Regions from separate parts of the Homo sapiens genome. Here all the other regions are linked to region 3. Evidence: fine-mapped expression QTL. A gene starts in region 3. Each other region holds a variant in brackets. All regions are shown on one strand. Distances are between the middles of the regions. Region 1 overlaps SKAP1 (src kinase associated phosphoprotein 1). Region 2 overlaps OSBPL7 (oxysterol binding protein like 7). Region 3 holds the start of SCRN2 (secernin 2).

Region 1 (8,214 bases), 330 kb before region 3:
GTGAACCCCAAAGCCCTAAATAAAGTGACTGGGTAGGGAAATACCTAAACTTTAAAAGCAGCCATACATTCACTTTAATTAATGTTCCCAGAACAGCCAAGATTTATCCTAGAGCGGGTGGGAAGCCAAACCAGACATTTATTTTTTCCTATCAATATTTCTTATATCAGTACAGTGAAAATAGAATTGCCTCATCTCTAAGAGATCAGAGGATTGAGAATGGAAAGAATGGAAATGTCTCCTCTCTGAGAGGCCCGGAGATTGCAAGTTCAGAGGGGAATGGAAATGTGTCAGATCTGAAAAGTGAACACAGGGTGAAAGATAAAATTCCTTGGTGATGCTGACTTCTGATAGCCTGGTTTGATTCCAGGCACATTTGGAAATGAATATGTAACAGGTTTGTTGAATATAAAATTACATCTTATTCATCCCAGACTGTTAACCATGCTTCAGGCTGTTAGTGAGCCCATCCTTTCTAAGGTCAGATGCCCCTCTGAAGCCTCCTTAAGTGGACCAAGGACCTATTCCATGGTTGTCAGTAAAGGAATGCTGCACATTGCAAGGGCCACCTCAAGGACATTCGTTCCGTCGGCAGAGCCCTAATCATGACTGATTTAGATACTGGCTGATATTTTTCTTAGGGAGTCTATGAAAATCTTAAGCCTAGGAATTCTTGCCCTCTTTCCCTCCCTGCTCCTTCTCCATTATCTAGCCCTGTCTTTTCCTATTCTCCTCTCTCCTTTCCTTGTGCTTTTTCTTCTCTCCTTATCCATCCAGCAAAACCCCCATTTCTAGGTTCATTCTCTACAGAAAGTGAATACTTAAAAGGTTCAGGACCCAACTTCCTAAGGGTCCAGCTTCTCCCAGGGAAGAGAAGAGACAACGAAGATGCAGCCTCAGAAGTCATGCGCCAAAGCAGGAGAGAAAGAAAGCAGTGGAGGCGGGTGTGATGCACGGATGTGAGTGTAGCTGCAAGTACCTCATGATAGTGAACACATGTGATTAGGTCCATTCTGAAACCTATTTCCTTCTGTTGTCTACTTACTGTACAGAATTCCAAATGAAAATCTGTTCTGACCCGCCCATGTTCCACATATATCTTTTCTCAACCAACTTCCATCACCAGTGCAGAAAAGAAACACTTCATGTGGACAGCTTGGGTGGAGTAACTGTAAGCTTCCTATGGCCAATTTCATATTAAACTCCATTCAGAAAGCATTGATCTTTTAGCAAAGTCTAGAATCCAGTTTCAGACTCCTCCCTCATCTCATTTCCTCCTTCCACCTCTTTCTCTAAGGTTATATCTGGGAGGTGAGAGGAGATTTATTTCTTAACTGTTCCTACAGCTATAATTCAAGTAGGTTTAAAAAAAAAAAAACCTTTTGTTCCTCATGCTTCCTGCCTCCAAAATAAGTGTTGTTAAAGTATAGCAAGCTCTGAATATGTTTCTATGGTTTACACTTCCCACCAGTTATAATGATTGGTGACTTAGTGATTAAAAAACAGGAGGACTTTTTGCTCTCTCTGCAGAATCTGAGGCAGGAATTTTTATTATTTGTGTTTACTTATTTATCGATTGATTTTATATACTGCCTTTTCTCCAAAGGCGCTATAGAAATGGTGAAAAATACATAAATCCAAATGTCATCATTTAGTTTTGTAACAATAAAAGATAGAGGTCTGGGGGAAGGGCAGGCAGCCCCAGTGAAGGCATTTAAAAGGCAGGGAGCTCTAGGACAGTGTGAATTCCTATGTCATAGACAAGCTACACAAGTTTGGGCTACTTAGTTTTTCTCAGGTGTGTGTTTTTTTGTTTGTTTGTTTGTTTTTTGAGATGAAGTCTCGCTCTGTTGTCCAGGCTGGAGTGCAATGGCGCTATCTCCGCTCACTGCAACCTCTGCCTCCCAGGTTCAAGTGATTCTTCTGCCTCAGCTTCCCGAGTAGCTGGGATCACAGGCACGTGCCACCACGCCTGGCTAATTTTTGTACTTTTAGTAGAGACAGGGTTTCACCATGCTGGCCAGGCTGGTCTGGAACTCCTGACCTCAGGGGATCCGACCGTCTTGGCCTCCCAAAGTGCTGGGATTACAGGCATGAGCCACCACGCCCAGCCTTTTCTCAGGTGTTAACATGCTTTTGGGGAGAAAAATATATATAAGCAAGTTGACCTTTCCCTTCTTCCTTTTTTCCCAAAAGATGCTATGGCTAGCAGAGTTACTTTTAAAATCCAAGTACTTTTCTCCAACCTCGATGGATCCTGTTCCTTGAATGCTGTGCTTTTTTCTCTGATGGAATTGCTAACATTCTGAAGGCCTAACTAGATCTTATCAGAATAGGGGGGAAGGGATTCGGTTCATCCTTATTGAGTGTTAATGACCCTGTAAGATGTAATTTCTTTTATTTCATTCTGTTACCTAGAAAATCTATCACAGCCTTGTAGTATTGATTGCTCAATCTATAAAGAGCTCAGTTTACAGCATGACTGTTAGTAACAGGGTTATTTTAATGAGTGACTCTTCAACACCTCAGAGTTTCACTAAATTCCAACCCATCAGCCCAGTAGTCTAACATTAAGGGTCTTAGGTAATGAGAACTTATCACCTTTCCCTATCATGAAAAGGTAACCTCCAGGTAACCAAAAATAAAACTTCCTCTGTGTTCGTTTTTTATAGAAATTACTGGCCATTTGTTTGCATGTGCTATGTCAAATAAAAAGCAACCCTGGAGGCACAAATCATCCTTAGATACATAAAATCCCTGACCAAGGAAAACCTGAAACAGACCCCTCCCACCCGTACCTCCTTCAGTCTGCCCCCAACCCCAACTCTGAAATTGTGGAAAAACTAAGCCAAAAGGAGACACAGACCACACTATTGTGGTCTTATAAGCAAATGATTGCTTTTAGGAGGGCCAAAAAATGGTTGCTTATACCATTCCATCTCTGAGGCCCCCTTCTCACTTTAGTGCGCGCCAATAGAGTGAACTACTACATGAAAGAAACAAAGGGAAACCACAGAGGTGTTTGCAGCTCTTACCTTTTGAAGCCTGTTTTCCAAGACCAAACATGAGCTGATTATTAACCAGCTAAAATTATGGCCCAATGAAAAGAGGAAATGACATGAAAATCAGAATCTGAGTATACCCCACTTCCAAATCATACTTATACCACTAAGATCATAGTAATTTCAAAACTCAAGATTAAAGGGCTATGAAATAAGCAAATGGTATTATCCAATTGCTCTTCCTCCTCTGGTGCCACAGTCATTGGGGGCTTGGCAAATATTTTCATAGCTTTCTTCTGAAATAGTTAATAAACTATCAAGGCTGGGCGCAGTAACTCACATCTGTAATTCCAGCACTTTGGGAGGCGAAGATGGGAGAATTGCTTGAGCCCAGGAGTTTGAGATCAACCTGGGCAACAAAGTGAGACCCTGTGTTTTCAAAAAATTAAAAAGATTAGCTGGGTGTGGTGGCATGCACCTGTAGTCCCAGCTACTCAGGAGGCTGCAGGGGGAAGATAGCTTGAGCCCAGGAGTTCGAGGCTGCAGTGAGCTATGATTGTGCCACTGCACTTCAGCCTGGGTGACAGAGCAAGACCCTATTTCAGAAAAAAAAAAAAGGAAAAATTGTCAGAGTTTACTTGAATGAACTCAACATGTTAGACCTTTCTGACCTGGCTTAAAGAACATTTCAAGTCACTTCCAATGGGTCACTACTTTGGCGTTTTTTGTCCAAGTCTTACCATCCCATCCTCTCGTAGGACTGGCTTTATCCATCTTCATGTTTTGTCTCTCTTTTCCATAACTTAAGAGGTTGTACTCAATGCCAGGCCTTATTGACACGATCATTTTAGTAATCAAGAAAATGTAAATAACATGCTGGCCTGCCTTTAGCCACTTTTCCCTGATCACAGCCTGAATTCTGTCGCTACCCAGTGACTCCCAAACATAAGCTGAACTGTGGAAGGAACAGTCAGATTTTATTGTCCCTAAGGAAGGAGAAAGGCAGAGAGATGTCCTGGTCCTTTTTACCTTAAAACTTTGCTCGTCACACAGGCTAATTTTCAGCCATTGACTCTATCATCAGTAGCACCAACTTGGCCTCAGTTACAAGAGAAATGACTGTCACTAGTTGTAAAGAACCTGGCATGCAATGACAAATGCTTTGCAATAAATAGAAAAAAGAAACCAATACTTTTTTTTAACTTGTTCTGTTGCTATTCTTCTTATGACATTTTGGTTGCTTGGAGTTTAGCTTCCCTTACATAGGATAAAGAGAGTAAGATGCTGCTTTTTTTTCTCTAGAAAAAGCCCTTCTCAGCTCTGCTAGCAATTTAAATGCAGTGATCATACCCATTAGCTTCTCTATCATTGTAATTGTTGTTAATTGTTATAACTGTTTTAGTTATTAGTGGTGTCATTATTGCTCTAGGTCCTCTGTCTGTTTTATGCTGAATATATTAGTGCTTTGCTTTTGAATTACCAGGCTTTATTTAGTGCAGAGTTATGTTTTTCGGAGAGACATTGAGAAATGCTGGCATTAAGCTTTATTCTTTTGTTTTTCATTCCAAATGGACAGACTGGAAAAAAAATAATTAGATGGAATAATGTCCTTAAAATGAGAATTAGGATGTTTTGAATTAATTAAATGGTCAGAATGCTGCACCATTTCTGATTTCAGACGGCTGCCAGAGTAGTGTAAGCCTAAAGGAATCTAAATCCAGCCCATAGAGGCAAGCCTCACCCTTGGGCTCTCAGTTCCTCTCTCTGCTCTACAGAAATCAAAGTCGGCCGGGCACAGTGGTTCATGCCTGTAATCCCAACACTTTAGGAGACCGAGGTGGGCGGATCACCTGAGGTCGGGAGTTCAAGACCAGCATGACCAACATGGAGAA[A/G]CCCCGTCTCTACTAAAAATACAAAATTAGCTGGGCGTGGTGGCACGTGCCTGTAATCCCAGCTACCCGGGAGGCTGAGGCAGGAGAATCCCTTGAACCCAGGAGGCAGAGGTTGTGGTGAGCCGAGATCATGCCATTACACTCCACCCTGGGCAAAAGGAGCAAAACTTCGCCTCAAAAAAAAAAAAAAGAAAGAAAGAAAGAAAGAAAGAAAAGAAAAGAAAGCAAAGTCTCCTCATGCATTCTCTTGTTTATAGGATGAGTTGGGCAGGTTTAGGGAGAAGCTGGACTAGCCCTGCAGACTCTGGGCTTTTAAGCTCTTCCTGGTGCCAAGCTTCAGGAATGAAGCCCTCCTCCAACTTATCTCTTCCCCTCTTCAAGGTCTTTAACACCCACTTGGCCAGAAAAGCCTTTTCTGACCCCTCAAACTATGTTAGATTCCCTATTACACACAGCGTCCTCAACTTCTCCTTCACAGACATATCATAATCATAAATAAACATTTGTGTAACTGTTTTTTCCATGGTGCTTCCCCGACTAGAAGGTACCCTTGAGAGGAGGGCTCATGTGTGGCCAATGTGGGATTCCCAGTATCTAACACAGTCCCTGGCATTTAGTAGGTACTGTATACATGTCTGTTGGATGATGAGAATGAATTAGTGAAGTTGCATGCACACATACACATAAATGCATATCACATGTGTGTTAAACAGGAAGTCTGCAATATGGAGTCACCTTGCCCAGCTAAGGAATTATCCCTCACTGATTTCCTTAATAGAGAATACTTCTAGCTAGCTAGCAAGTTCAAACTTTTCCCAGTTTTTAGCCCTTCATTCTGCCTGTTTTTTTGGAGCTGTTCTACTTCTGACTGAAGTTCCCTATTCTTGGGCTGAGCTAAACCATCTCCTGGATTCCTGAACTCTGTCTTCTTTTGGCCTTTAATATCAAAGACCTTTTCTATCTTTATTTTTTTCCTGGAAGGCTTCTGTTTTTCTCCTAGCTTCTTGCTTTCCCTGTGATCTTTTGTGCTTTTAGAATAGATCTTTTTCCAGATGTTCTCCCAGGCCCATATATACCCAATGTCAAATCACTTTTTATGTATACACCAAAAAGGCACTCAATATTAGGACCTATCCCATATCCAGGCACACAGTAGGGAACCGTACTCCAAAGTGACTATCTGCTAGGCCAGAAAAGACCAAGATAACCTTGTTAGTCTCCTTACCACTTAGAAATATTGTTATGGTTTTAGAATCTATTTTTACAAAAATGGTTTTCTCTACCATATATAAATCCATGAAAAATATTGATGTTAATATTCTTTCATTCCTGAGTTTAGTCAAAATCTTGGGGTAATTAATCAACTCCATTAAAATGGAAAATTCATAATATATCCTCTGGGAAAACTACTTTCACTTTTCAGGGATTGATATTTCTCTATTATTTCATGTACTTAATATTTCCAAAAATGAATGCTTTGTCTATTCAATAACTAACATATTTCTCCCAAAGTATTTTTCTTCCAAACATATTATCAACTCTGTGGCAGAATGTTTTCACAGTAGTTATCTTGTTTGCTGCCCTCTGTTGTCTACTGCACACACAGACAATTTTATGTGTGAAGAAAACATGCCTGAATTTCTATATGGTTGACATTTTTACTTTTGTTTGCAATATCTGAGTTTTAACTAAATAGTTCTCTCCCTCCTCTGTTTTTGTACCCTTTAAGATTCCTACCAAAATTCTCTTCCAGAGACATATAGGGATTTTGTCCCTCCGTGCCTTTATTATTTAAATTGCTCGTAAGTCAGGAATAAGTAGAAAAAAAGCAAATATAGGGAGGGTGTCTGTGCCCCTACTGCCCACTTGCCCTATCCTCAGCCACCAATACTATCACTGCTCATGGGAGGGTAAAATGAATAAAGGGAAAGGTGGAAATCTATAGAACAGAGTCCCCCAAAATCATGTGAATTTTAATTAGAACCCAGGACTCCTGACTCCCATCTATTGAATTTCATCTTTTGTAGGTGCTTTGTTCACAGCTCTGATACAGAGCACCCCAAGGAAAAAGGAGCATGCCTGGTCTAGTGGGCATTAGCTCTCCTGCCATTCAAATCCCCAGATCCTCTCCCACTTTGTACTCTAGTGTTTAACCTTTCCGGGTAGAAGATCAATACAAATTCTTCATTGTTAAGAATCGATGGCTGTCCTGTGGCATCATTGCCATCTAGTTCTGCTGAGAAGCTCAGTAAATCTCTCCAGCTGCTTCTAAAGCTTGGTTTGTCGTCTTCAGTTGCTTTCATTTTTAATGCAGATCACTTTGGTTTCTGTTCCCCTGGGGCTTGCAGATAAATCTTGGCAGACATGTTCAAGGTCTACAAATGAGATGCTGGAAAAGGGCCAGCCCACCCAGAATTTAGTTGTAATGGATGAGACACCCCCTTGGTTCCACTTAAAGACTGGGCTATTCGTTTCAGTATTTATTGGTGATTACCTCATATAGTACCTAGGTGGGAAGTTCCCAGGACAAAGTTCCTATGGACAAAGAAGGCCGAAAAGTGAGCTGTGATCCAGAAGCCTGCTGGCTGACTAAGCCTTTCTTGTAAATAGGCAGAAGTCACAGATTTACTCTGATCCTTCAAATGCATAATGAAGAGAAAAACTAGATAGTTAGTTGCCCTGGATCAGGAAAGTCTGGCGGGAAACCTCTGCACTGCTTACTTACAAACCAAGTGAAAAATTACCTGCCTGATTTTCTTTTATTAATAAATAAATATATTTATCATATTGTTGAACGGCATCCTACTAGGAGTGATCTGTAAATATTTAATGTTAGTTAATGATCTCCTTCTCCCATAGTCCTTTGCTCATGCTGAGTGTTTGGCTGTATCTCATCTCAACTCCCCTTAATCTGAGGTTTCCTAGGGGCAATATCAGAACCCTGGTTTCCATTTGCAGCAAAAACATGGGTACCTCGGAAAAAATAGAGTCCTTTTAACTTTGATTTCTCCTCTCTTTGATCAGTAGACTATGCCAGTTACTACCAGGGCCTATGGGATTGCCATGGTGACCAGCCAGATGAACTGTCCTTCCAACGGGGTGACCTCATCCGTATTCTGAGCAAGGTAAGGACAGAAAGTGTGGGGCTTAAATAGAAAGTCAATTTTTTCATTCTTGATTTAGTCACCATAAACAGAATTATTCCATGTCATACACTTCCCATGGCTCCCTCACAATATAAATTCCCATTTATTCATAATTGTTAGGAAAAGTTTTAAATGAAAATCCAGATTCAGGAACCATTTTCACATTTAAAAATA
Region 2 (8,184 bases), 36 kb after region 3:
GCTTGTCTAGAGGACAGAGTTGGGCAGAGACAGAGGCCTTGGGTTTGGGGGCCCCTGCAGATGGGCAGTTCCCCTGAGTTTGATCTGGATCCTCAGGTACCTGGAGGAGGGGAACATACAGGCCGCTGAGGCCCAGAAGAGAAGGATCGAGCAGCTGCAGCGAGACAGGCGCAAAGTCATGGAGGAAAACAACATCGTACACCAGGCTCGCTTCTTCAGGTGCCTCGGCCTCGCCCTCCGCCCTGGGTCTCCCCATGAGCCCTGCTTGGAGCAGGGCAGGTGTGGGAGGCAGCACCTTAGGACCCTAGCCTGCCTTCTAGATGTTCACCCCTCACTGCCACCGCCTTCTCCCACCAGGCGGCAGACGGATAGCAGCGGGAAAGAGTGGTGGGTGACCAACAATACCTACTGGAGGCTGCGGGCCGAGCCAGGCTATGGGAACATGGATGGGGCCGTGCTCTGGTAGCCCTGGCCCCGGGGGCAGGAGGCTCTGGTTCCTCACTCCTCCTGCCTCCACCCCCTACCATGGACACATGGGTGAGGCCGGGCTCCCCGCCTCACTGCCCTTGAGACCAAAGGGGCAGCCCTGGCCCTCCCTCCCCTCTGCTGGCCAGAGGGTCTGCATCTCAGCCCACCCCCAACCCCACCGTTTGGGGTGAGAAGCAGAATCTGTGCTTCCCCAGTCTCCTTGCCCCAGACAACCAGCATGTAAGACCCTTCCCGCTTCACCATTCCGATTCCTGTCCCCTTTGGGGTACTTGGGGGAGACTCTGGCTCCCAGGATCTGTTCCCTATTTCAGTGCCTTCCTAGGACACAGGGGACTCCTTGACGCTCCCCAGGCTTTCTGTGCCCAGGCCTCTGTCCCCAGCGGTGAGGTTGCAGTGAGTGAAGGAGAGGAGGTGATCTGTTCTCCCTCCCCTTCTGCCCATCTCCAGCATCTTCTTCCCCTTCCCTGGCCCTGCAGGGCCTTCTCCAGCTCCCTTTGGTTAGTCCCTGGCCATCCCTCCTGTCCTGGATCCCTTCTCCCTAACTGCAAAATGCCTGCAGCTTCCAGCTCCTTCGTCCCTGATCCTCAAGCGGTTCCCTCCCGTCTCAGCTCAGCGGATCCCCCAGAGTGGAGGAGGCCTCTCCATGAGGAGGGGAGCAGCCCAAGGCACCTGTCCTCTGACCCACCGGCAGCGAGTGCGCAGGTGTGAGTGTAAGTTCATGTAGGAGAGTGTATGCGTGTGCGCCTGTGCCCTGCTTGCAGGCAAGCAGGGCTCCCTCATGTAGCCCCGCCTTCCCCCTGCTGGGGGTCCACCACATCGCTGCTCTTTCTCACAGTCTGCCTCTGATGAGGGCGAATTGCTATGACATTCCAAGCTCCAATAAAGACTGTCCCAGACTTTGGCCTGTGACCATTCATTGAAAAACATGTGGGCTCATGGTCAGTGGAAAGCCCTCTGCCACTGTCATGGGTAAAATGAATTGTGTCCCCAAGAAACGTTTCTAGCCCCCAGGCATGTGCATGTGACCTTAGTTGCAAATAGTGTCTTTGCAGAGACAAGTTAAAATGAGGTCACATTGGATTTGGGTGGCCCTACTCCAGTGACTGGTCTCCTTATAAGTAGAGAGAAATTTGGGCACGCAGACGTACGCAAGGGAAGACAAGTGTGTGAAACAGACACACGGGAGTCGGCCACGTGGAGACGTAGGCAGAGATGGGAGCGATGCATCTGAAAGCCAAAAGTGCCAAGGCTGCTGGCAACCACCCGAAGCTTGGAGAGAAACAGAGAGATTCTCCCACTGAGCCTCAAGAAGGAGCCAACCCTGCTCACACCTGGCCTCAGCTATGAGAGAATACATTTCTGTTGTTTTAAGTCACCCAATATGTGGTGCATTGTTACAGCAACCTCAGGAATTGAATACAGCCACCACTAACCTGAGCCAAAAGCCCAGAGGCCATCTGCCCTCCCGCTTGATGCCCTGTCACTTCTACCCCAGGTGTCTCTCTGCACTGGCCCCTTCTCTCCATTGCACTGGCTAGGCTGGGCCCTCATCAACACTTGTCTGGACTATTGTGGTGGCCTCCAGGGTGGTATTTCTTCTTCTTCTTCTTTTTTTTTTTTTTTTTGAGACAGAGTTTTACTCTTGTTGCCCAGGCTGGCGTGCAATGGCGCGATCTCAGCTCACCGCAACTATGCCTCCCCGGCCCAAGCAGTCCTTCTGCCTCAGCTCCTGAGCAGCTGGGATTACAGGCATGCATGCCACCATGCTTGGCTAATTTTGTATTTTTAGTAGAGACGAGGTTTCTCCATGTTGGTCAGGCTGGTCTCAAACTCCCGACCTCAGGTGATCTGCCCGCCTAAGCCTCCCAAATGGCTGGGATTACAGGCATGAGCCACCGCGCCTGGCTTCCAGGGCGGTATTTCAAGAGAAAATGTGACACCTCATGTCTGCTTAAAATACATCCCCTGCTTCCCAGTGCCTAGAGGAAAATCCAAACTCTTCAACCGGTAGAAAAACCACATGGCCCCTGGCCCCCTGTCTGGCACAGAGTGCTGGCCCCCACACTCAGCACCCTAAGTCAGGTCTGTGCTAGTACTCCACTTTGACCCCCCAGGATCAATGAGTGTTCAAGGGCGGAAGGGAGGGAGGAAGAACAGGACCAGCTGCCTTTCCTCCCCGCTGCCCTCGCCCCTGGGGCCAGCTCTGATTCTGAAGCTGTGTGATCTTGGTCAGGTTGCCTTCCCCTTCTGTTTAGAGGCTTCAGTCTCTCATTTGGCTCCTTTTGTGTCTTAAAGAAGAACATCTGTGAGGTGACCCAGGCTCCTCATTTCATTCGTTCTCTCTTAACCCCTCTCCCCCACTCCCACCCCACCACCTGCAGCAACAGCGACCCCAGTCCTGCTCTGGTCCGATGAGTGTCCCAAGAGGAAGTCATGCTTTCTTTGGGGGGGTGGCAGAGTGGCAGGAACAGAGGGGACCCCTGAGCTACGACAGCCCTTCGCATTGTCATCTTTTTCTTCCTCCTCATCCCCTGCGGAGGAGCAGTGGTCCACATTTCCAGTTTATTTACAGAGAATGTCAAAGTTAAAATGAACACACTTGTCCTGTCACCACATGCCAGAAATAACCTCAACCCATTCCAAAAAAAGCCAAGGCCCTCACACATTCAGGATATTTTTAAATAGCATGTGCTGCCCTGCTCCGGGCCCTTTCCCCTCAGAGCACCACAGCACCTGACCGACCAGCCCGTAACAAACTGCCACGTATTTTAAGAACCAGAGTTTAGGCTGGGCACGGTGGCTCACACCTGTAATCCCAGCACTTTGGGAGGCAGAGGCGGGTGGATCACGAGGTCAGGAGTTCAAGACCAGCCTGGCCAAGATGGTGAAACCCCATCTCTACTAAAAATACAAAAATTACCCAGGTGTGGTGGTGCACACCTGTAATCCTAGCTACTCGGGAGGCTGAGATAGGAGAATTGCTTGAACCCAGGAGGCAGAGGTTGCAGTGAGTCGAGATCGTGCCAGTGCATTCCAGCCTGGGCAACACAGTGAAACTCCATCTAGAAAAAAAAAAAAAAAAAAAAAAAGAGAGAACCAGAGTTTAAAAGAGACCAAATTCCCAAGTTATTTTTTCAGAGGAGACAAAAAAAAAAAAAAAAAACTCAAAACTCCTCTGCCTCTGTGGCTGTGCCCTCTAGACCAGCATCCTCCCCCAAGTCCTTTCCCAGGCACAGCCCAGGTGCCACCTCAACAGCTGGAAGTGGTGGGTAAGGTTGTTTTTGCTTCTTCTGGGGCCCAGCAGATGAGGGGGCAGTCCCATCTGAAGGACTGTGGTCTCAGAAATGTTCCCCATCTGGCCAGGGCTTTGTGGGTCACCGCTGATGGGAGCTCAGGCCAGGCTGAGGGGAGCCTGGGGTTCTGGCCCCAGTCTGTGCTCCATGGACAGAGTGTGAGGGGCCCACACCAGCCAGGGGTTCAGGGAGCGGTGCCAGCTCCTGGCTGCCAAGAATCCCAGGGTGGGGTGCTCAAGTCACTGATCTGAGAAGGGAATGGTGGGCCCCCTTCTCAAGCCTGTCAGCCTAGTCCAGATGTCCCACAGGAGTACTCATTACCACTGGGTCGTGGGGAGCCAAGCACAGACCCAGATCTCCTGCCTTGGTTGGAGGACATGGTGGGCTTGGGACAAAGGGGAGAATTTGGGGGCTTAATGGCCCTTGACTAGGCTTGGAGTGCAGTAGTTTGGAGAACCAGGGATCCGCTTCCCTGGATGAGCAAAGGAGGATGGAGCTTGGACAGCAAGGGAAATGGTCAGGCCAAGCAATGCTGGCAGAGGGAGAGGAAGGTAGGCAGGAGGTGTCTCAGTCCTCATTTTGCCTCTTTGGACCCTCCACCCCCAAACTGCTCCACCCAGAGGGATTTAAGTAACTTTAAAAAATTT[T/A]ATTAATCATTATTGAATAGCTGATAGGGACACCTAGGTTGGAAGGAGCAAAAAAAAAAAAGTCAAATATAAATAAAACCCCCAATTCCTTGCATCTTCTGAATAAAGTGTGTGTGTGTGTGTCTGTGTGTTTGTGTGTGTGTGTGTAATAAACAGAGAAGGGAAAGAGTGCTGAACCAGGTGAGAGGCCCAGGCATTCACATTCCCTCCATGAGGTCAAAGTGGAGGGGTGTTCAGGGCAGGAGGAGGCTGCTGGGCCAGCACTGTGACTCCCAGCTTCACCTGGATGGCATGCAGCCCAGGGGGATGTGTGCAGGGGAGTCCCACCCTCCCTGTTTCGGGGAAAATGAAGGTAGTGGGGACAGTGGTGGGGTAACCCCCAGCCCCTGACCAACACCTGCTGAGAATGCAGAGATCTTACGTCCGACCTCAATTCCACCGGCTCCAGTCTGCCCCTGGAATGGTGCACAGCTCTCCTATTCTACGCTGCCCTGGTCTAGTCCCAGTTCTGACACAGGCATTTTAAAGATCCTGGATTACATTGCCCGGCCATATCCAATCTCTTTAGGGAATGCTCAAGGGACCTTGCCATTGGGTCATTAGTTTAATGGTGTCTCCTTACTGCAAAGGACACGTTTTATAAGTGATTTCCCCTTTTAGAGACCCTCTAGTACTAGCAGGGGTAGAAAAGGAGGAGAGGCTTAGCACTCTCCCCCTGGGACCCATCTCTGTTCCCCTTAAGGTGGTCAGGGAGGGCAGTGTAGGACTTCAGAGAGACATTCACAGGCTGGCCTGGGCCAGGTCTCGCTCATCCAATGACCTATTTCTGGTACAGACACTTAACCAGATCACCTGGCCTTATGTGGTGGACCAGGGACTGGTCTTCCTGATTCTTGCCACACATACCCTCATCTTCTCCTCATCTGTACCTTAAGAGGCATTACCGTCAGAGGGGAACACTGAGAGTTATCAAGATCCCGACAGGCCAGAGTCAGGTCTGCATGGGACTCAGGCAGGTGGTTCCAGGGGCTGGGAGAGCATGGCTCCACGGTTGGGGGTTCTAGAGCACTACTCGTGTCTCTCTCTCTCTTCTTTTAGAGACAGGGTCTAACCCAGGCTGGAGTGCAGTGGCACGATCATAGCTCACTGCAACCTTGAATACCTGGGCTTCAGCAATCTTTCCGCCTCAGCCTCCCAATTAGCTAGGACTACAGGCGCACATTACCACATCTGGCTAGTTTTTTTTGTTTGTTTATTTAATTTTTAGTAGAGATAGGGTCTCACTATGTTGCCAAGTCTGGTCTCAAACTCCTGGGATCAAGCAACTTTCCAGCGTTGGCCTCCTAAAGTGCTGGGATTACAGGCGTGAGCCACCTTGCAGGGCCCACGTCTCATTAACACATGTCATCACATGGTGCAAAGTCTTCAGGTTGCTGAAAGATGCCTCCAGGCCCTAAGGTATGTGGAGGGGTGGCTTTGATGAGCAAGTCCAAACCATGGGCACTATGGTCCAGGATGCCAGGCCCCTGGGGATGTTGGGCCTTGCTGACCCCTAATATGAGAGGCCCCTCAAAATGAAGCATCTGTCCAGAGGAGGGTAGGTGGGTGGGCTGGGCTCTGGGAGGGGTGTGGGTGAAGAAGAGATTGGAAGGGCCGGGGCAGGAGCAGGAAGAAGAGAGAAAAGCCTGAGAGTCAGCCACAGTCTGTCTAGGACGAAGGTGGTGAGATTCTCCAGGCATCCTCAAGAGGGCACCCCGGGCTCTTGAAAGAACCAATTTAGTCTCATCCCAAGCCCCACCTGACAGCTGACAGGTGGCTGCACCACCATCTGCGTGGAGTATCAGGCCTCCAAGGATGTGGCCCTGGCTGGACCCAGCCCAGCAGTGATCAACAGCAGCAGCAGACACTGTTACAGCCGCATTCCTATGGACTGCCGGCCATCCCTGCCTGCCCATCTTCATCTTCAAAGAGAATGCACAAGTCAGGAAACCCCTGTTCTGGGAGACCCAGGTGTCCCTAGCCACTCCCAAAAGCTGCCCAGATGGTCTGGGGGAAGGAGGTCAGGCCCCCTTTGCTGGTGCCTCTTCACGTCCAGGTGACATCCCTCCCAAGGACAGCTGGCCAGGACACCCCTCCTCCAGAGCCCTCATAAGATGGTCTTTTCCCTAAGTTTCCACTAGAACCTCTCCTGCTTCTGTCACCCCAGAGCCCGTCACACACTGGGATGGGAAACCCTGCATTTAGTTCTGTAGGCTAACGTTGGGTGAAGTGTGTGTGTGTGTGTGTGTGTGTATGTGTGTGTGTGTGTGTGTGCGCGCACACATGGTTTGAAGGAGGGAGTGTCCACGGTGCCCTCCTGGGAGGGATGAGAATGAGGACAAGAAGGAAGGGAGCTATTGAGCCAGTGCCAGTTTAGCAGAGAAGCCTTGGGTTCTGTGGGAAGCCATCTGACCTAGGACCCTGAGGAGGGAGGGCGAAGGTGGGAGATGCGGAAGGCAGGTCACATTGGCCTTCCCTCCCTTCTCCTCCATTTAGCAAGATGTTACAGGCCCAAGAGAGACACTCTCCTCCAAGCTGGGCCTAGTGGGCCGCAGCCCTCACAGGCTGGCACATTCACCTCCCACCACCTCCCATGCAGCCTGGGCGGGGAAGAGCCCTGGACCAAGAGCTAGGAATCCTGAGTTTTGGCCCTGGCTCTGTCATTTATTCCTTTCACCTCCTGAGCCTCAGTCTCCTCCTTTGTAGCTTGGGGATGATGCTGCTGGCCTTACCCCTTCACCGGTGTCTTGTTTGTCATAGGACAGAGAGGACTGAGGGTTGTTTTAGCTGTGGAGCACAGGACAAGGGTAGCTTCAGATGACCTGGGCCAGGGTCACCACCAGCTCTGCCACTCCCACACCTGGGGGCCTTCCCAAGGCAGCAGCAATTCCCCCTGAGAGAGACAGAAGCAGAGTTTAGCGTGTGAACCTGCAGACACCAATTGGTGCCTTAACTCTCCTGAGACTTTTGCCAAAAATAGGAGGATGCAAAGTGTCTCCCCAGAAAGGCTGGGGGCTCTGCCATTGGTCAAAGGGGAGGGGACTGCACCCCTTATCTCTGTGGTCCCTCTCACCATCAATTCCTGAGACAACTGAGCATCCTGTGTCTGTCAGGTGACTGATCCCCCTCCCCAGTTAAGGAGGCTCAGGCTGTGGGAAGCTCACACACAGGAGAGACATCTCCAGCTACAAGGGGGCAGAAAGTTCTGGAAGGGCAGGAAGTCCCAGGCTGGCAAAAATACAGGTTGAGGGGGCAGAAATGGCACCTGCCCCCAAGTACCACACCTGGGACCGACATAGGGTGGCCCCAGGATGGGATGTGGCCGGGGGACACATGGGTCCCGAGGTGCCTGCAGGCAGGCGGGTGTGAAAGTCAGCCTCCCAGGAGCAGATGGGACAGAGCCCGGCCACCCAACCAGACTGGCTCAGGTGCAGCAGGCCCAGTGGCTGTGGGGCAGAGCCTGAGGACCAGAGATGCCCAAGCCGGAGGGACGTGCCATGCCGCAGCCTCGGTCGCCTGTGCCTGGAGCGGCGAAGGCCCCACAAGGGTATTTTATTTTCAAATACCTTTGCATTTCTTGAATAAACCCACCTGGTCATGAGGTATTATCGCTTTTATGTGTCACTGGAATCAATTTTCTAATAATTTACGTGGACTCTGCATCTATGCTTATGAAAGAAATTGGACACTAATTTTTCTTTCTTATAATATTAGAT
Region 3 (8,086 bases):
ACCCAGGATGATCCTTATCAGGGACAAGGCGATGAAAGGCAGCCGAGCTATCTGATGGGCTCCTGCCCAGCTGGAAAGTATGAGGGAAAGGCTCCTACTGTAGCTCACAGCTAGAGACCCACCATGGTTACACAACCACAAGGCACACAAACATACCCGCACTGGACCCACGTGCACCCGCCCCCAGAGATATGCAGAAATATCTATCTGTACACATCTTCCCAGGCCTCCCAGTGCTTGATACAAAGTTGGTGCCTAATTCACATCAAATGAGTAGAAAGCCTCATGATTCCAGAGCCCCAAAGCCAGGAAGGTTGACAGAAGATAGGTTTTGGGCTCCAAGGGGGCTGGGGGGCGGGGGTTACTATGTTCTTTCACCTTCTCATTCTACCTTTTTGCCAAAAGTATTATTTTCCCCTAGTGGGATTTCTAGATCCACCACTCTAACCCTAACCCAATTTCTCGAAGCCAAATCTGGTACTCAGGCTGGCCCATCCCATAACTTAATTTGGGATCCTGGGGTCACAACCTTTATGGCTACCTTAGGATAGGGGCATCAGAATGAATGATTTAGGGGTTGTAGAGGAAACCAGACTGGTTTGGGGCCAATTGTTTTGTTTCCACCTGCTGCTAGATTTAGAAGGCTGGGAGGAGGAAGGACAGGTGTGTTTTCCTAAGACCTTATGCCAGCCCCACTCCTCCAGGTGCCTCTTTTGTCTTCCTGGTTCTAGGGGAGTTAGACCCCAGGAACTTGGTGAGTCCCCTCCTCCTTTACCCCCATCGCTGCCCCCAGGGACAGGAGGGCAGCTGTGCGGCCGGCTGGGCCTGTCTGGGCAGGGCTGGGGCCACCCCTCCTCCCCATGCAGCTCCTCCCGCTGACCTGCATTCTTAGCAGGGGCCTTTGGTGGGGCTCTGACACTTGCTTCCTTGCTGGAAATGCTGCCTGGCTGGCCTGCCCCCCATCCCCCCCACGACGGAACCCAAAGCCACCTCTGACCCCCCTCAGATGGGGTGCCTGGCAGGAGGATCATGGATGGCCCAGGAAAGGGTTAGGGAAATCAGAACATCTGGGCTGGCTCTCTGGGTTCCTCTCCTGGGAAGTGGAAGTAGAATCTACTCCTAACCTCTAGGGTGGGTGAATGAAATAAGAAATGAGAAAGTGACAGAGAAGAAGACAGCCTGGAAACTGCAACCTGGGGGTGCGCTGTGGCCTCTCTCTGCCTCTCCTCCTGCCTGTTTCCGCCCCACAGTGGGAAGCCGGGAAACTGCAGGAGATGAACCCGCCTTCCTGCAAGCTGCTTCAGGTGCCCAGATTTCTCAGCACGCAGCTTCGATGTTTGCTTCTGGAATGACATTAATTGGCAACCTCACAATCCCTCCCCGACACTGTATCAGAAACAGCCTTCACCTTCCCATTAATCCTAGCATGACTGACCGCCAGCACCCTAGCACAGTAGGCTTGAAAGAAGGCCAAACTCCACTAAAACACTGTTAGAATTGTTTTCTTTCTTTCTTTCTTTCTTTTTTTTTTTTTTGAGACGGAGTTTTGCTCTTGTTGCCCAGGCTGGAGTGCAATGGCGCGATCTCAGCTCACCGCAACCTCCGCCTCCCAGGTTCAATCGATTCTCCTGCCTCAGTCTTCCCAAGTAGCTGGGATTGCAGGCATGTGCCACCACGCCTGGCTAATTTTGTATTTTTAGTACAGATGGGGTTTCTCCACGTGAGCCAGGCTGGTCTTGAACTCCCAACCTCAGGGGATCCGCCCACCTCAGCCTCCCAAAGTGCTAGGATTACAGGCATGAGCCACCACACCCGGCCCACTGTTAGAATTGTTAAGCAAATACAGTAAAGTCAGAGGATACAAGGTCAATGTACAAAAGTCAATAGTGTTCCTATACACTAATAACAAACTATACAAAAAAGAAATCAAGAAAATAGTCCCATTTACAATAGCTACCAAAATAATAAAATATTTAGGAATAAATTTAACCAAAGAGGTGAAAGATCTGTACTCTGAAAATAAGATATTGATGAAAGAAACTGAAGAAGACACAAAGACATGGAAAGATATTTCATGCTCACGGATTGGAAGAATTACTATTGCTAAAATGTGCATACTACTCAAAGCCATCTATAGATTCAGTGCAACCCCTAGAAGCAGATAACCTGCAGCATCTCCCCTCTCTCCATTCTGGAGGGCTCCACAGAGCAAAAGGGTGTAAGATGCATTTGTCTTAATGATGGCTATGGAGAGATGGTTTGTAGAGAAAAATGAACTGAAAATCAAAACATTTGGGATCAGAGTGTACCTCCACATGACTGTGTGTCACCTTTGGCCAAGACTTCTTTGTGGTTTCAGTTTCACTACAGGTAAAGGCACCAAATCTTTGAACTAGAAAGTTCTAAATTTCCCTTTAAAGCGATCTTCCTATGGGTTTGAGCACTATCAGACAGATAGGTCCTCTGGGATCAGATGGGTTTTGTGCACACTTTCCCTTATTTATTTATTTTAAGAGACAGGGTCTTGCTCTGTCACCGCGGCTGGAGTACCGCGGTGTGATCTTGGCTCACTGCAGCCTCAATCTCTCTGGCTCAAGAGATCCTCCCACCTCAGCCTTCAGAGCAGCTGGGACTAGAGGCACGCACCACCACGCCCAGCTAATTTTAAAATATTTTCTGTAGAGGCGAGGTCTTGCTGTGTTACCCAGGCTGGTGTTGAACTCCTGGGTTCAAGTGATCCTCCCACCACCGCCTCCCAGAGTGCTGGGATTACAGGTGCGAGCCCCCCGCACCCAGCCTCCACCACTCTCGTATTCTGTATCTTATTCCCCTAGGCGCCTCCAGCCTGGGATTGCGCCTCTGGGATTCAAACCAGGACTCAAGTATCTGAGGTTCTTCCTTAATCTCCAGATGTCCCAGCAGTCCCCTTTCTCTGACAAAGTCTCCCTTTTCACGCGGGATCCTTTCCACCCCCAGCTCCAGCTCCCCGCAGTGACTCCGTGGGGTTAGCAGCCTTTGTCAGGCCTCAAATGGGCGCCTGGGTAGGACAGGGAGCCAGGTGGGACTCGCAAGGCCGCTCTGCTCCGGGAAGTGGTGCAGGCGCGCGCCCTGGTGGAAAACGGCGGAGCTGCAGGCTCCGTTCCGGCTCCGACCCCGAGGCCGAAGGCCTTCCAGGTCACCTGAGAGTCTCCGCCCAATGGGGCGGCCCTGGCCAGAAGCGGAGGAGGTGGCACCCGGGACCGAGCTGGGGTCTTGGAGGAAGAGAGGGTGAGGGGAATACAGTACTGGGGGTGAGAGAAGGGTTGGACAGAAGAGGGTCGGGTATCTGGGCATGCGCAGGGCCGCAGGACTCTTGGTGGGGTAGCGAGGGGGACGGTCCCACGACTGCTCCGAAGGGCCGGGACTCCCAGTGGGGGCGGGACCCCCGGAGTGCCCGCCTGCGGACTCCCAAGCCTGGAGCCTGGGGAGAGGGTGGGCACCTCCGTTCCCGCACACCCGTCCATGGTGTGTGCGCCGAGCGTCCAGGAGCCACGGCGGTGTCTTCCTTGCGCGTCTTTTACACGTGTGGGGGTAGGCTGCTCCTCGGGGCTGAGCCGTGGCCAGGGTTATGGAGAGGCCCGCCTCTCCCCAGATGGCGTCGTCGAGCCCTGACTCCCCATGTTCCTGCGACTGCTTTGTCTCCGTGCCCCCGGCCTCAGCCATCCCGGCTGTGATCTTTGCCAAGAACTCGGACCGACCCCGGGACGAGGTGCAGGAGGTGGTGTTTGTCCCCGCAGGCACTCACACTCCTGGGAGCCGGCTCCAGGTGGGTTAGACTTTATGGGGTGCTGGGAGGTGTGGCAGATCTCTGCATTCTTTTAAGACCTTCTTCCCTGCTCCCCACACCTGGGAGGCTGCCAGAAGTAGTGGAAGAGCATGAGCTTTAGGTCTACCAACCTGGACCTGAGCTCATTATGTAGCCTCAGTCTACCTCAGTTTCCTCTTCTGTAAAATGGGAATGAGACCTTCCTCAAAGGGATCTATAAGGTAATTGGCAGAGTGCCACACTCGAGGGGCCGCCCCTCTATGAGTGGACGCTTCCTTTCTCCTCCCTCACCTCCAGTGCACCTACATTGAAGTGGAACAGGTGTCGAAGACGCACGCTGTGATTCTGAGCCGTCCTTCTTGGCTATGGGGGGCTGAGATGGGCGCCAACGAGCATGGTGTCTGCATTGGCAACGAGGCTGTGTGGACGAAGGAGCCAGTTGGGGAGGGGGAAGCCCTGCTGGGCATGGACCTACTCAGGTGCAGACCCTGCCCTTCCTCATCTGCCTGACACACCAGAAATCTAGGGGCTGAGTTTTGACCTGGGCCCATCCATCCCTCCCCCAGCCTGGTTCACAGGGGCCTCCTCCTCTCTGCAGACTTTGCCCTTGTGCCTTCGTGAAGAAGGCTGCAGCAGCAGCCACCTTTGGGCCTCTCCTGGCCCAGAAATAGAGCAGTGGTTATTTATTTATTTTCAGTTGAAATCTTACATAGAGTCCCAATTTATAAAACCAGTAATAGTGGATGGAGCAGCTCTGGGTGGAGAGAGGTTAGGGGCTCAGGACACTTCTCTCTCTGAAACTGTGTTTCAGGCCTTTTCATGGAACCCTCAAAGCATAGCACATGGAACCAGAGCATTGAAAGCCACTGGCATAATTGCATTTGATACGATCAGTGCCAGCAGATTTGCTGTGTGACTTGGGCCTATCACCAAACCTCTCCGGGCCTCTTCTGTCCCCTGGAGCTTCTGCCACCAGCCATTGATCCCTCTGTCACCCTTCTGTCCCTTGGCCCTCTCTTTTGCCAGGCTGGCTTTGGAACGGAGCAGCTCTGCCCAGGAGGCCTTGCATGTGATCACAGGGTTACTGGAGCACTATGGGCAGGGGGGCAACTGCCTGGAGGATGCTGCGCCATTCTCCTACCATAGCACCTTCCTGCTGGCTGACCGCACTGAGGCGTGGGTGCTGGAGACAGCTGGGAGGCTCTGGGCTGCACAGAGGATCCAGGGTGAGGTGTTCCCTTTCTCCCAGCTTTGGGAAGTGGGAGAGATGGTAGGGGCAGGGAGGGGCCCGATCCAGGTGCAAGCCTGTCAGGACATCCAGGGAGATGGGAGATGAGCCCACTTGGGAATTCTCCTCCCCTTCACTTGGTTAAGTCTTCCGTGTGCTACAGCCTGTTGCTTCCTCTGGGAAGCCTTCCTGGACTTCCCTGGGTGGTCAGGTTTCCTGCTTATATGCAAGCAGGTACTTCTTTTTCATCGCATTCAACACAGTTGCATGCTTACATTTATCTCTGTGATTATTTTGTCTGCCTCCCCCACCAAAACGTAGGCTCCATGAGGGTAGGTAGTTCTCTTCTCCACCATGTTCTCAGCACCTCGCCCAGTGCCTGGCATAGAATAGATGCTCAATGGTAAATGAACCACTCCCCGATCTCCTCCACAGAGGGGGCCCGCAACATCTCCAACCAGCTGAGCATTGGCACGGACATCTCGGCCCAACACCCGGAGCTGCGGACTCATGCCCAGGCCAAGGGCTGGTGGGATGGGCAGGGTGCCTTTGACTTTGCTCAGATCTTCTCCCTGACCCAGCAGCCTGTGCGCATGGAGGCTGCCAAGGCCCGCTTCCAGGCAGGGCGGGAGCTGCTGCGGCAACGGCAAGGTTAGTGAACGGTGGAGGGGGCTGGGGGCCAGGAGGGCCACAGCAGTGCCAGCCACTCTCCCCTCCCACAGCTTCCCCCTCTACTCCTTGGCAGGGGGCATCACGGCAGAGGTGATGATGGGCATCCTCAGAGACAAGGAGAGTGGTATCTGTATGGACTCGGGAGGCTTTCGCACCACGGCCAGCATGGTGTCTGTCCTGCCCCAGGATCCCACGCAGCCCTGCGTGCACTTTCTTACCGCCACGCCAGACCCATCCAGGTGGGAAGAATGAGGGTGGGGAAGGCTGGGGAGAAGAGAGGATCTGATATATCTCCGTGCTTCCATCTGTGCCCCTCTAGGTCTGTGTTCAAACCTTTCATCTTCGGGATGGGGGTGGCCCAGGCCCCCCAGGTGCTGTCCCCCACTTTTGGAGCACAAGACCCTGTTCGGACCCTGCCCCGATTCCAGACTCAGGTAGATCGTCGGCATACCCTCTACCGTGGACACCAGGCAGCCCTGGGGCTGATGGAGAGAGATCAGGTATCCCCCAGGGAGTAGGGGCTACCTTGAGGGGATGATAGACCTCCCCCACTCCCAGTGGGACTCTGGAAATATGAAGGAACTAGGGAGTGGAAGAGATTTCAGAGCTGGGGAGAGGAGTTCCTCCCTTCAAAGCCAGCAACTGCCTTTGGGGAATGTCGGGGGGTATCTCCTTTCTCCTGCTTGTGTGAGGTGGTACACAGTCCCCCCTTCACCTGGCGGGAAGCCTGTCCCGGACAGACTCATCTCAGCTTTCCCTTGGGGCAGGATCGGGGGCAGCAGCTCCAGCAGAAACAGCAGGATCTGGAGCAGGAAGGCCTCGAGGCCACACAGGGGCTGCTGGCCGGCGAGTGGGCCCCACCCCTCTGGGAGCTGGGCAGCCTCTTCCAGGCCTTCGTGAAGAGGGAGAGCCAGGCTTATGCGTAAGCTTCATAGCTTCTGCTGGCCTGGGGTGGACCCAGGACCCCTGGGGCCTGGGTGCCCTGAGTGGTGGTAAAGTGGAGCAATCCCTTCACGCTCCTTGGCCATGTTCTGAGCGGCCAGCTTGGCCTTTGCCTTAATAAATGTGCTTTATTTTCTCTTCAGTGAACTTTATCCCAGGACCAGTGGGGGTGGGAGAGCCAAGTGAGGCCCAAAGGCAGCTGTGGGCTGGCTGCGGGGCCTGTGGTTGTGTACTCATTCCTATGAGTGGGTGAGTGATGGGGACTGGGCAGGAGGACAGGGAGGGGACAGGAGCTGGCTGCTGTTGGGGATGACTAGGACCACAGCTCCTTGGTCCTTGGCTTGGACCGGGGAAGGGCACTCGCTAGGGGTGGCAGTGAGATGGCATGCCTCTTCCATGAGGTGGTGCCCGCTTCCTGCCCAAGTGGGAGCCAGGAAGCCAGCGGGGGCCTGAGGCATGCCTGCCCTGTGGGTAGCTCCCGAAAGATTCCAGACTCGCTCTTTAGAATCAGGTGGCTCACTGAGCTCTGTATTTTGTTTCCTGGAGCTTTCACTGGTTTCTTCCCCTGAGATACCCCAAGTGACATGAAAAGCATACTCAGGGCCTAGAGACACTTTACTGGGGATGGGCTTCTGTCACAGGTCAGAGGTCTGAGAAGAGGGGCAGGCCCCACTCCTCTCCACTAGTAGAGAAAGGTTGACAGAGAATCATTTCTTGCTTCTCTTGGCCGTAGTTTTGGTTGTGCTGGGGGCCTCAGCCACAGAGGCCTTGGGGGCTGTGGCTGCTCGTGCCCCCTTCCTTCCCCAGAAAGAGCTTTGGTGGCCCCTGGGAATCAGACTGCATGGTTTCTTGGTGGGAGAGGAGGCCTGGGGTGAGGAGACGGCCTCAGGGACTGTCTCCTCCCCTTGCGCAGGAGTGGCAGAAGGGCTGCTGTCCCCAGCCATGGGCACCCCAGGTAGCAGGGGCAGGTCGGTGAGGGTGGGCTGCATCTCCATCCTCAGCAGGTGCTCTGTCAGGGCCGTCTGTTGCCGGTGCTCCCTGTGCCTGCTCAGCTCCTGCTCCAGCTCCTTGAGGAAGCCTGGGAGGGGCCGGGGGTGGAGGGTACAGGGTGGGTGGAGCCCTGGGCTCAGCAGGAGGGTCCCTGGGCTCAGGGAAGTCTCTGGCTGGCCCCTTGTCCCTTGTGGGAAGGAGCCTGAGGCTGGGGCCCAGGACTGACACCTGGCTCTGGCCCAGATGTTGATCTGAACTTGGGGCTCCCCTCCCCGGACGCCACTGCCACCTTAGCTTCCCTCATGTCCCACAGGGCAGAGGTGGGCTCTGGGGAGGCTGAAAACCTTGGAAAGCAGGGTCACCTCGTTCTGAGCAGAATGGGCCACTCAGCTCTGGGAACTCCTCATCGCTTGAGGCTTCATCCTCCTCATCCGAAATCCAGCGCTCCA

What was found. PIP is the estimated chance that this variant, and not a neighbour inherited with it, causes the effect.
Region 1: its variant is fine-mapped to the expression of SCRN2 in whole blood (INTERVAL, PIP 0.94).
Region 2: its variant is fine-mapped to the expression of SCRN2 in whole blood (INTERVAL, PIP 0.94).

Annotation. Positions count from the first base shown.
Region 1 is chr17:48,162,274-48,170,487 of GRCh38, reverse strand. SKAP1 (src kinase associated phosphoprotein 1) reads left to right here. Exons shown (of 13, transcript NM_003726.4): 11 at 7,919-8,019. Among named protein-coding and RNA genes, the nearest start is that of MIR1203, 9.9 kb to the right of the region's middle. The variant A/G (reference allele first, on the strand shown) is at 4,895.
Region 2 is chr17:47,800,573-47,808,756 of GRCh38, reverse strand. It overlaps OSBPL7 (oxysterol binding protein like 7), which reads left to right. Exons shown (of 23, transcript NM_145798.3): 22 at 97-219; 23 at 358-1,385. The coding sequence ends at 466. Among named protein-coding and RNA genes, the nearest start is that of OSBPL7, 17 kb to the left of the region's middle. RefSeq lists an enhancer at 1-357. The variant T/A (reference allele first, on the strand shown) is at 4,430.
Region 3 is chr17:47,836,389-47,844,474 of GRCh38, reverse strand. SCRN2 (secernin 2) reads left to right here and starts at 3,202. Exons shown (of 8, transcript NM_138355.4): 1 at 3,202-3,267; 2 at 3,632-3,805; 3 at 4,103-4,284; 4 at 4,832-5,031; 5 at 5,469-5,684; 6 at 5,779-5,944; 7 at 6,025-6,205; 8 at 6,473-6,783. The coding sequence starts at 3,632. The coding sequence ends at 6,631. LRRC46 (leucine rich repeat containing 46) reads right to left here. Exons shown (of 8, transcript NM_033413.4): 7 at 8,000-8,086; 8 at 6,756-7,725. The coding sequence ends at 7,355. RefSeq lists enhancers at 1,303-1,352, 3,175-3,730, 3,634-3,733, 7,193-7,740.